Homo sapiens: one gene and its partner. The protein of the gene in region 1 purifies or fractionates together with the protein of each later gene. This does not show direct contact. Each region holds a gene or a part of one and is shown in the gene's direction. Other genes may lie near its edges.

Region 1 (5,752 bases):
CCCTTCTGCCCTTTAAAAATTAAAATTAAGGAGAAACACTGATTTTCGTCTCTAGAGGCAATGGGCTTAATTGCTAGAGGCTGTTTTGTATACGTAAAAGCAGGCGAGTTACCTTGGGAGGGAATAGTTCCCAGGATTGCTTATTTCTTTGAATGAGATTAATTGGAGACACCTTGACTCTTGCACCAGCTACATTAGCTTCAATGGCTAGGGTAACCATGGCATTTTGTAGCTGTGTATCTGTTTGTCAGGAGTTAACAAGTAATTATGTAACAAGTCTCTAGTTATAATGATCACCTTTGGCTACACCATTTGCCCAGGGACTTGCCTTTTTTTTGTTTTTTTTTTGATCACCTGCTACCCAGCAGTGCTTTCTGAGTTTGCCAGCTGCAGTCCACCCATCTTCTGTTCAGCTAAACACGAACTGACCATATTTCAAAACTTACCTTTCTGAGAATCTAAAAACCCTCCATTAAAAGTTTGTGGGCCCACTGATAGCACAGAAAGGGCCTTGTAAACCAGGCAAGGAGGGGTCCTTAAGACTTTCCTTTTGATAAGTGTATCTTTCATTAGGAGAGTAAGTGCTTGTTCTGGCTAAACTGTCTTGCTTATAAAGTGTCTGAGAAGTAAGGAACAGCAACTCCTTTTAGAGGTTTAGCACACTAAATATGCTCTAGCATCAGTGGAGTCACGCAGATGAAAGCTGGGAAGGTTTTACAGGTGGTTTCCAGCACCAGCTTTACAGGATGGTAGAGGTTTGAGAAGATTTCCCAGATTTTTTTTCCTACCCGTTACCCCACCCTGCTACCCCAACTTAGAATGAAGTTAATGGTTAAGGACTGGAAATAATAGAGAAGCTGAGGATCAAGTGTACAGTTAATAGCTTAAAAATTATTGGGAGGAAATTCTTAAAGTTTTGATAGGGACAGGGATATTTTGTTGGTTGAACTTTATCATCTTGTAATTAATGTCTTACTCTGTCTTTCCAGAGGGCAGCATAATTGATGGCATGATGGCTTGGGGTGCTGTGTGGGCTTATTTAGCATTTGTTCTTCAGGCCAATGCTCATTTCACGACTGGGGCCTCTGATTCTGGAAAGAGTAATTTTGGATTTCAGGGTCTCACAACATTTTATGGAGTTCTAAAACTGGAAGCGACCTTAGGGACTACTTTCTATAACTTCCTTTTGACTAAGTGAAACAGGCCTGGGAAAGCTTGACTCGTTTAACCAAGGTGTATAGGTGAATAAGCAGAGGAGTTGTACCACCAAACCAGTATTTATGTCAAAACTAATACTGCTTTGAGGATGATTTATGCTAAATTATCTTCTGATGTTATCCCCTTTCCCCCAAGGCAGCCAATGTTTTAACTCTCCCAAGCAGACAGAGTTATGTGTGGCTGTAGCCAAATTTGGGTACAATATGGAACAGGTGCTTGGCTGTTCTTGGGTGGTTGGTGAGTAGAGTTTCCTAAGCTTTAGTTATTTATGTCCTACCTCCCTCAAGATTTCTACCCTACCCCTGTACCACCTGTACTTTTATTCTGAAGTTTTCTTTAAACTAATTTTTTAAGAAACTTTGTGTTTCCTGGGCAGTACTACACGTGGAGTCATGGATTTATTGAAATATATGTATATATAAAATTTATATCAAATCATGTTTACATACTATTTTTAATCTATTTGATATTACATGCACACACGTATATGATTATACATAATAAAATGAGACCATTACTATTAACACTTTAAAAGTTCATCTGTGTATCGAAAACAACAGTTGTGTTCCATTAGAGATAGCTGTGGTGGAAAATGCTGATTTAATGGAGGAAGTGTGGGCTTCCAAGTTGGGCCAACCTGGATTTAGCTTTTTTTTTTTTTTTGCAATTGTGTGGCCTTGGGCAAGTTGCATAGCCTCTCATTTGTAAATTAGTTTGTGCACTTCAGAAAAAATTTCAAACCAACATTTGTGTGAGAAAAGCCCTCCTCCTGGTAGAAGTTATTCTTGTCACCATAAATGTAATTTTTATTGTTGTTGTTAACCAGTGGTAATATATTTCAGAAAAGGGCTCCCAGAAGGTAGGGTGGAACCCATGAACGAAGACCCATGTGGAGAAGTATGGGGGTGGGGCGGGGGGGAGAATATGGAAGCTTTAACCTGCCTGATGGATTGGTTATATTTTTTTGAGAGCTTGCTGTGCATCAGCATCCTGTAGGACTTCATTATATATTGTGTTATAATACTTTGCTTCCTACAAACAGACTGTGCTCAAGCCTTTAAAGCAGGGAATCAGAAAACTGGCAGTCATCCTTGAGACCTCCTCCTTGCTTATACCCCATTCATCCATCAGCGTCTCTACATCCATGCGCACATCCTGTTCAGTTCCAAAATATATTTCCAATCCACCAGATGCTCTCCAGTTTCACCAGTATGCTTGGTCTCCCTTCTGGCTTCAGGGTGACTTCTCTTCCCCAGGGCTCCTGCATATTCTGTTCTGGTCTTTCTGCCTGGACACCTGTCTAGCCACCCCCTCCCACTTAGCATTCCACTCAGCTCTTCTCACCTTAGCCTGTGGTTAGAAAGGTAGGCTCTGGTGCCAGTCTGCTTGGGTTGGGACCCTGGCTGTCCTGTTTATGTGCCCCTTATTCTCCCTATACTTCATTTTCCTTCCATATAGAGTGAGAGTGATAATACTACTTAACTCATAGGGCTGTTGGAAGATTACCTAGATAGTATATGTAAAAAGCACTTAGAACAGAATCTGTCATAGATTCAGCCCCTATATGTTTGCTGTCATGAACTACTGTCATGCCTGCCCCTTCATCATTCAAGTCTCAGGCTTTTCTGATATATCATTTACAATTATATACTTATTTGCATCTTGCCATCTCCCCCTAATAGGTCAGTTTCATGAGGGCATGGATGAGGTCTGTTTTGGTATGGCAGAAGTACCTGGCACCTGCACAATTAGTTCCTAGAAGGCTGAGGGCACAAATATTTATTGGAACATGAATAAACTTGGGATGAATAAATTAAAAAGGGAAATCCGGTGACTGAGGGCTGTTGGGGAAAGTCAAGGTTAAAGCTGAAAGTATCCTTTGCATCTATCTGCTTTGGAGCCTAGGTTAAGCCTGAAAGTAAAATTAAGCTCCAGAAGTAGGAAGGAAGAGGAGGTTTACTCTGGGACAAAAGAGACTGAAACAGGGCCAGGCGTGGTGGCTCATGCCTGTAATCCCATCACTTTGGGAGGCCGAGGCGGGTGGATCACCTGAGGTCAGGAGTTCGAGACCAGCCTTAACAACATGGTGAAACCCCGTCTCTACTAAAAAATACAAAAATTAGCTGGGCATGGTGGTAGGCGCCTGTAATCCCAGCTACTTGGGAGGCTGAGGCAGGAGAATCTCTTGAACCCAGGAGGCGGAGGTTGCAGTGAGCCGAGATTGTGCCATTGCACTCCAGCCTGGGGGACAGAGCAAGACTGCATCTCAAAAACAAAACAAAACAACAACAACAAAAAACAACAGAAAAAGAGGCCGAAACATTTGAAGAGTAAATATGTGCAGAAAATCAAATTTGTTAGAAAAATGGGTTGGGGCAGTAATGAGATTTCCGGGAATCAGGAGCTGTAGAGCCCCACCAGCAGGGACCTACGGGAATAATGGCCTGGTGTGCAGTGCAGGGGCTGCCCGAAGATATACACAGCATGACTTAGGAGAGCTGGTGGTGATGGTGGTGTCTGCATGCGGATATCCCAGAGTGGTGGTTCTTCAACTTCAGAGGACATTCAGATTACCCTGAAGGCTGGTTGAAACAGATTGCTGGGTCTCTAAGATTCAGTAGGTCTGAGGTCAGGCCTCAGAAATTGCACTGGTGACAAGATCCCAGGTAATCTGATGGTGCTGGTCTAGGGCCCCACTTCGAGAACCCTCACCTAAAGGGAAGACATCCAGTTCTGCAGGGGCTAGAGCATTCTGCTTGATACGAGCAGGGCTGGATTAGACTTCTATGTATGGCTGAAGTTGCAGTAGTTTGGTTTAACAGCCAACCCAGCCAAGATTTGGTGTTCTTGTCCCAGAATTTGTGCCCTCTCTTAGTTCAGATCTAAGGGAATGGACCAGGAAGTCTCAGTCCCCCTCCAGTGGCTTTTTCCATTACACTTGAAATAAAATGCAAACCCTTTACCTTGGCCTTCAAGGCCCTACCAGTCTGGCCCTTGTTCACCTCTGCAGTCATTGCCTGCAGCCAAACAGCCTGGCTTTGAGTTCTGGCTACTCTGTTTACTGCCTGTTTGACTCAGCTTCCTCAACCATGGAATGAGGTTTGTATTTCTTCCAACTTCATAGAGTTGCTGGGAAGAGAAAATGAGCTAATGTATGCAAAGTGTGTAGAATCGTGCCTGTCACACAGGCAGCACTCAACACAGGTCAGCCACTATTAGCTGATCCCTTATTAAAGGATGCTGGGGGTCTCCTGTTGTACTTAACCATAACAGCCACAAGATCCTGCCTTTCAAGATCTGGGCTTTGAGTCACCCCTTCCAACTTGCTGTGTGGTGGGACCACAGGCTGCCTCTCTCTTCTTCCAACAGGCCTAGCTTCTTTGTGTATAGGTTCCTGTCCCTTGCTCCCTGCAGCAGTTTTGTTTCCTGTCATTTGGTTCTTAGCTCGGAAACTCCCCCACAGGGAGGCCTTCCTTGCAGCCTGTCTTCCCTCATCCTTGCCAGTTCATTTCCCTGAGTTAATATGTTTTGTAGCGCTTGTCACTGAAATGCAATTATTAGGATGCTATTCTCTCCATGGCCTGCCTTCCAGCTGGAATGTAAGCTGCATGAGAGCAGAGGCTTGTCTGTGGTGTTCACATCTGTGAACGGCCTAGTGCCTGGGAGTAGACTAGGTGCTCAGTAAATACTTCATGAAGAAATTAATAAATGCAGAAAGAACTATTAATGAGCAATTGTGAGTATTTATAACATTTAACTATCTCAATGCTTGGTTTATTTTGGTAACTCCTGTTAGTTTTCTTGTTAGCATCGAAAACTCTTAAAGGCATGAATGCCTGTTTTAGAGGCAGCTGGGGAAGTGGAGTGAGGGAGGTGGAAAGTTTGTTTCTTCAAAAGGGGAGGATGTTGATAAAGTTTTCTGGGAAGAAAGGACAGGTTGACCAGTTGACTTGGGGGACCAAAAGAGGAGGCAAGGGAGATACTTCATTTCAGAAAGCTCCTCACCTGAGACTAATTGGCTGGCCCCAGGCGCTGCTGCAGACCTCCCAGAATCCCAGTGTTCAGGGAGGAACTGATGTTTGTGCTTAACTCATGCCTCAGGTGACTCTTAGGAGAGGAGCAGTGTAGGAAGCACTGGTTGGGAGGTCCTGCTGTTTTCAGCTTCTCACAGTTTGCTACCCAAACTCTATGGCCAGGGAGGAGGAACTCAGCTGGTTGTCATTTTTCAGGGTCTGCCAGCCTCTGCAGCCGAATGTGAAAGATGCTTGTTAAAAATGGACATATATACTTTGGGAGACCAAGGCTGGAGGATTGCTTGAAAGTAGAAATTTGAGGCCAGCCTGGGCAACATAGTGAGACACCCATCTCTACAAAAAATTCAGAAAGCCAGGTTTGGTGGTGCACACCTGCGGTCCCAGCTACTAGGGAGGTCAAGGTAGGAGGATCACTTGAGCCCAGGAGGTCAAGGCTGCAGTGAGCTGTGATCTTGCCATTGCACTCCAGCTTGGGCTATAGAGTGGTACCCTGTCTCTTA
Region 2 (3,500 bases), on another chromosome or scaffold:
GAAATGCAGGATGTCAAGGCCCAGGATGTCAAAGCTGCTGAATCAGGAAATCTGTATTTTAAGAAGATTCCCCCAGGCAATTTGGATGCAATTATAAGCTTGAGAAGCACTGATCTCTAGAGCCTCGTAGATCATGGCAAAAACTTGAACTTCAGTGTGAATGAACTTGAAAGCCATTGGGTTTTGAGCATGGGAGTGACATGGTCTGACATTTTAAAAGATTCACTGGCGACTGTGTTGAGCAGAGACTATAAGAGGCAAGGAGAGAAGCAGGGATACTAGTTAAGTGGCTAATACAGTAATACCAAGTAGATTGGACTGGAGGGATAGCAGGGGAAGTGGTGATAAAACGACTCAGGATATATTTTCAAAGTAGAGCTTTTACAGGAATGCTGATGGATTGGATTGGATTATAGGGTTAGTAAAGGAATCTGAGATGAGAATGATTACAAGGCTTTTTTTTTTTTTTTTTGACAGTCTTGCTCTGTTGGCTCTGTCACCCAGGTTGGCGTGCAGTGGCGTGATCTTGGCTCGCTGCAACCTCTGCCTCCCAGGTTCAAGCAATTCTCATGCCTCAGCCACCTGAGTATCTAGGATTACAGGTGTGCACCACCACGCCTGGCTAATTTTTTTTTTTTTTTTTTTTTTTTTTTTTTTTAGGCAGAGTCTCGCTCTCTCGCCCAGGCTGGAGTGCAGTGGCACCATCTCGGTTCACTGCAAGCTCCGCCTCCCAGGGTCACGACACCTGGCTAATTTTTGTATTTTTAGTAGAGATGCGGTTTTGCCGTGTTGTCCAGTCTGGTCTTGAACTTCTGGCCTCAAGTGATCTGCCTGCCTCGGCCTCCCAAAATGTTGGGATTACAGGCGTGGGCCACCACACCCGGCCTTACAAGGCTTTTTGACTTGAGCAACTAGAAGAATGAAGTTGCCATTTACTGAGATGGGGTAGCATATGGGAGGGAGAGGTTTAGATTGTTGGTTATGTGAGTGCAGAGTTCAAGGGAGAGGTTGTCAGCTAAAGATACACATTTAGGATTTAATACTCAGCGTGTAGACAGCACTTAAAGCCATGAGATTGCAGTGAGTGTAGATGGAGAAGAGCAGCAGTTTGAAGACCAAGACCTGAGACAGTCCAGCATTTAGAGGCTAGGAGGATGAAGAAGAACCAGTAGAAGAAATTAAGAAGCAGTCATTGGGGCAGAAAGCGAATGAAGGAGCTAAATGGACGCTAAATAAAGAGAGTGTTTCAAAAACAAAAGAGAGGTCAACTGCAGATTAACTACTGGATTTATTGATGTCATAGTCACTGGTAACCTTGACAAAGCTGTTTCAGGAGATGGTGGGGGCAAAAGCCTGCTAGGAATAGGTTTTTAAGAAAATGGAATGACAGAGATTAGAGATGATGAATTTACATAATGTATTTCTTTTAAGATGGGCAGCATTATGTGTGTCTATATTGAGTAGGAATGATCAGAGAGGGAAAAGCTGATGCTGCAGAAGGAAGAGGGAACAGTTGTTGGAGCAGTGCCTTTAGTAGGTAAGAGAGTACGTGATCTGGTACACGGGGAGGAGATGGCTTTATCAGAACATGGACAGTTTATCCACAGTAGCAAAAAAAAAAGGCAGAGTGTATGTATGGGCATAGATGCAACTAGTGCAGGTAAATATAGAGCTTGGGGCAGTTGAAAGTTCTCTTCTGTCTGCTTCTGTTTCCTCAATAGGAAGGGAAAGCCTTTAACTGAGAGTGAGTTTGGGAAGAAGGTCATGGTGTTATGAGCAGAGGATAGGTGTGAAATAATTGCCTAGAAGAAAACGAATAGACTTGGGAGTACGAATGCCCACTTCAGGTTAGTAGTCATGAGTTTAACGTAAGACTAGTCAGCTTGTTTCTGTGTTTTTCTCAGGCCATTTTTATTTGTGTGGTCACATGAATGGAGTAACCAGAAAGTTGGTTTAACCTAGATTTGCCAGGGGAGTATGTGTTGTTGTTGTTGTTAATTAGTGGAATAAGTTACAAGTATCACAGTATCTAACAATAGGGGAATAGTAAATTAAGATAGATATAAGGCCGAGTGTGGTGGCACTGCCTGTAGTCCCAGCTACTCAGAAGGCTGGGGCAGGAGGATCGCTTGAACCCAGAAGTTTGAGGCTGCAGTAAGCTATGATCCTGCACTGCACTTCGGCCTGCGCAACACAACAAACCCTGTCTCAAAAAAAATTGTTTACAAAGGTGTTTTTGTTGTTGTTGTTGTTGTTGCTTTTTTTTTGAGACGGAGTCTCACTCTGTCACCCAGGCTGGAATACAGTGGCACTATCTCGGCTCACTGCAACCTCCTCAGTTCAAGCGATTCTCCTGCCTCAGCCTCCTGAGCAGCTGGGATTACAGGCGCATGCCACCACACCTGGCTTTTTTTTTTTTTTTTTTTTTGTATTTTTATTAGAGACGGGGTTTCACCATGTTGGTCAGGCTGGTCTCGAACTCCTGACCTGATGATCCACCTGCCTCAGCCTACAAAGTGTTGGGATTACAGGCGTGAGCCACCACGTCTGGCCTACAAAGGTTTCTAATACACTTACTGTAATGCTAAATTTTAAAAAGCATGACAGAGAAGTGAATATGTGATACAAGCTCAACAATGGAAATACGATGTATAGAAAATGGACTGAGAAAAATATGCTGTTATAACTGAATGCCTGAGACTGGATATTTATAATGAAAGAAATTTATTGGCTCACATTTTTTTCTGGAGACTGGGAAGTCCCAAATCAATGCACCAGTAACTGGCAAGGGCCTTCTTGCTGCATTGTCACAGGGCAGAAGGCAGAAGGGCACAAGTGAACCCACTCCCCAGAGCCCTTTTTATAATAGTATGAATATATCGGTGAGGGGTTGGGCACGGTGGCTCACACCTGTAATCCCAGCACTTTGGGAGGCCGAGGCGGGCAGATCACAAGGTCAGGAGTTCGAGACCAGCCTGGCCAATATGGTGAAACCCCGTCTCTACTAAAAATACAAAAAATTAGCCGGGTGTGGTGACGCGTGCCTGTAATCCCAGCTACTCAGGAGGCTGAGGCGGGAGAATCACTTGAACCTGGGAGCCGGAGGTTGTAGTGAGCCGAGATCGTGCCACTGCACTTCAGCCTGGGTGACAGAGCGAGACTCCATCTATTTTTTTTTTTTTTTTAAAAAAGATGGTGAAACCCCGTCTCTACTAAAAAATAGAAAAATTAGCTAGGTGTGGTGGCAGGCACCTGTAATCCCAGCTACTCGGGAGGCTGAGGCACTGAATTGCTTGAACCCAGGAGGCAGAGGTTGCAGTGAGCTAACATCATGCCACTGCACTCCAGCCTGGGCGACAGAGCGAGACTCCGTCTCAAAAATATGTATATATATTTGTGAGGGTGGAGCCCTCATAACCTAAACACCTCCCATTAGACTCCACCTTCCAACACTGTCATGTTGGGGATTATATTTCCAACACATGAATTATGAGGGGCAC

Evidence for each region. Proteins that work in one complex are often made in the same cells at the same time.
Region 2: the proteins of MED12L (region 1) and NCAPD2 fractionate together in Homo sapiens (co-fractionation; one large-scale study listed by BioGRID). This does not show direct contact.

What each region holds. Positions count from the first base shown.
Region 1 is NC_000003.12:151,087,555-151,093,306, forward strand, and holds part of MED12L (mediator of RNA polymerase II transcription subunit 12-like protein), read left to right. Parts: intron 1-5,752. UniProt on the Homo sapiens protein: May be a component of the Mediator complex, a coactivator involved in the regulated transcription of nearly all RNA polymerase II-dependent genes.
Region 2 is NC_000012.12:6,500,602-6,504,101, forward strand, and holds part of NCAPD2 (condensin complex subunit 1), read left to right. Parts: intron 1-3,500. UniProt on the Homo sapiens protein: Regulatory subunit of the condensin complex, a complex required for conversion of interphase chromatin into mitotic-like condense chromosomes.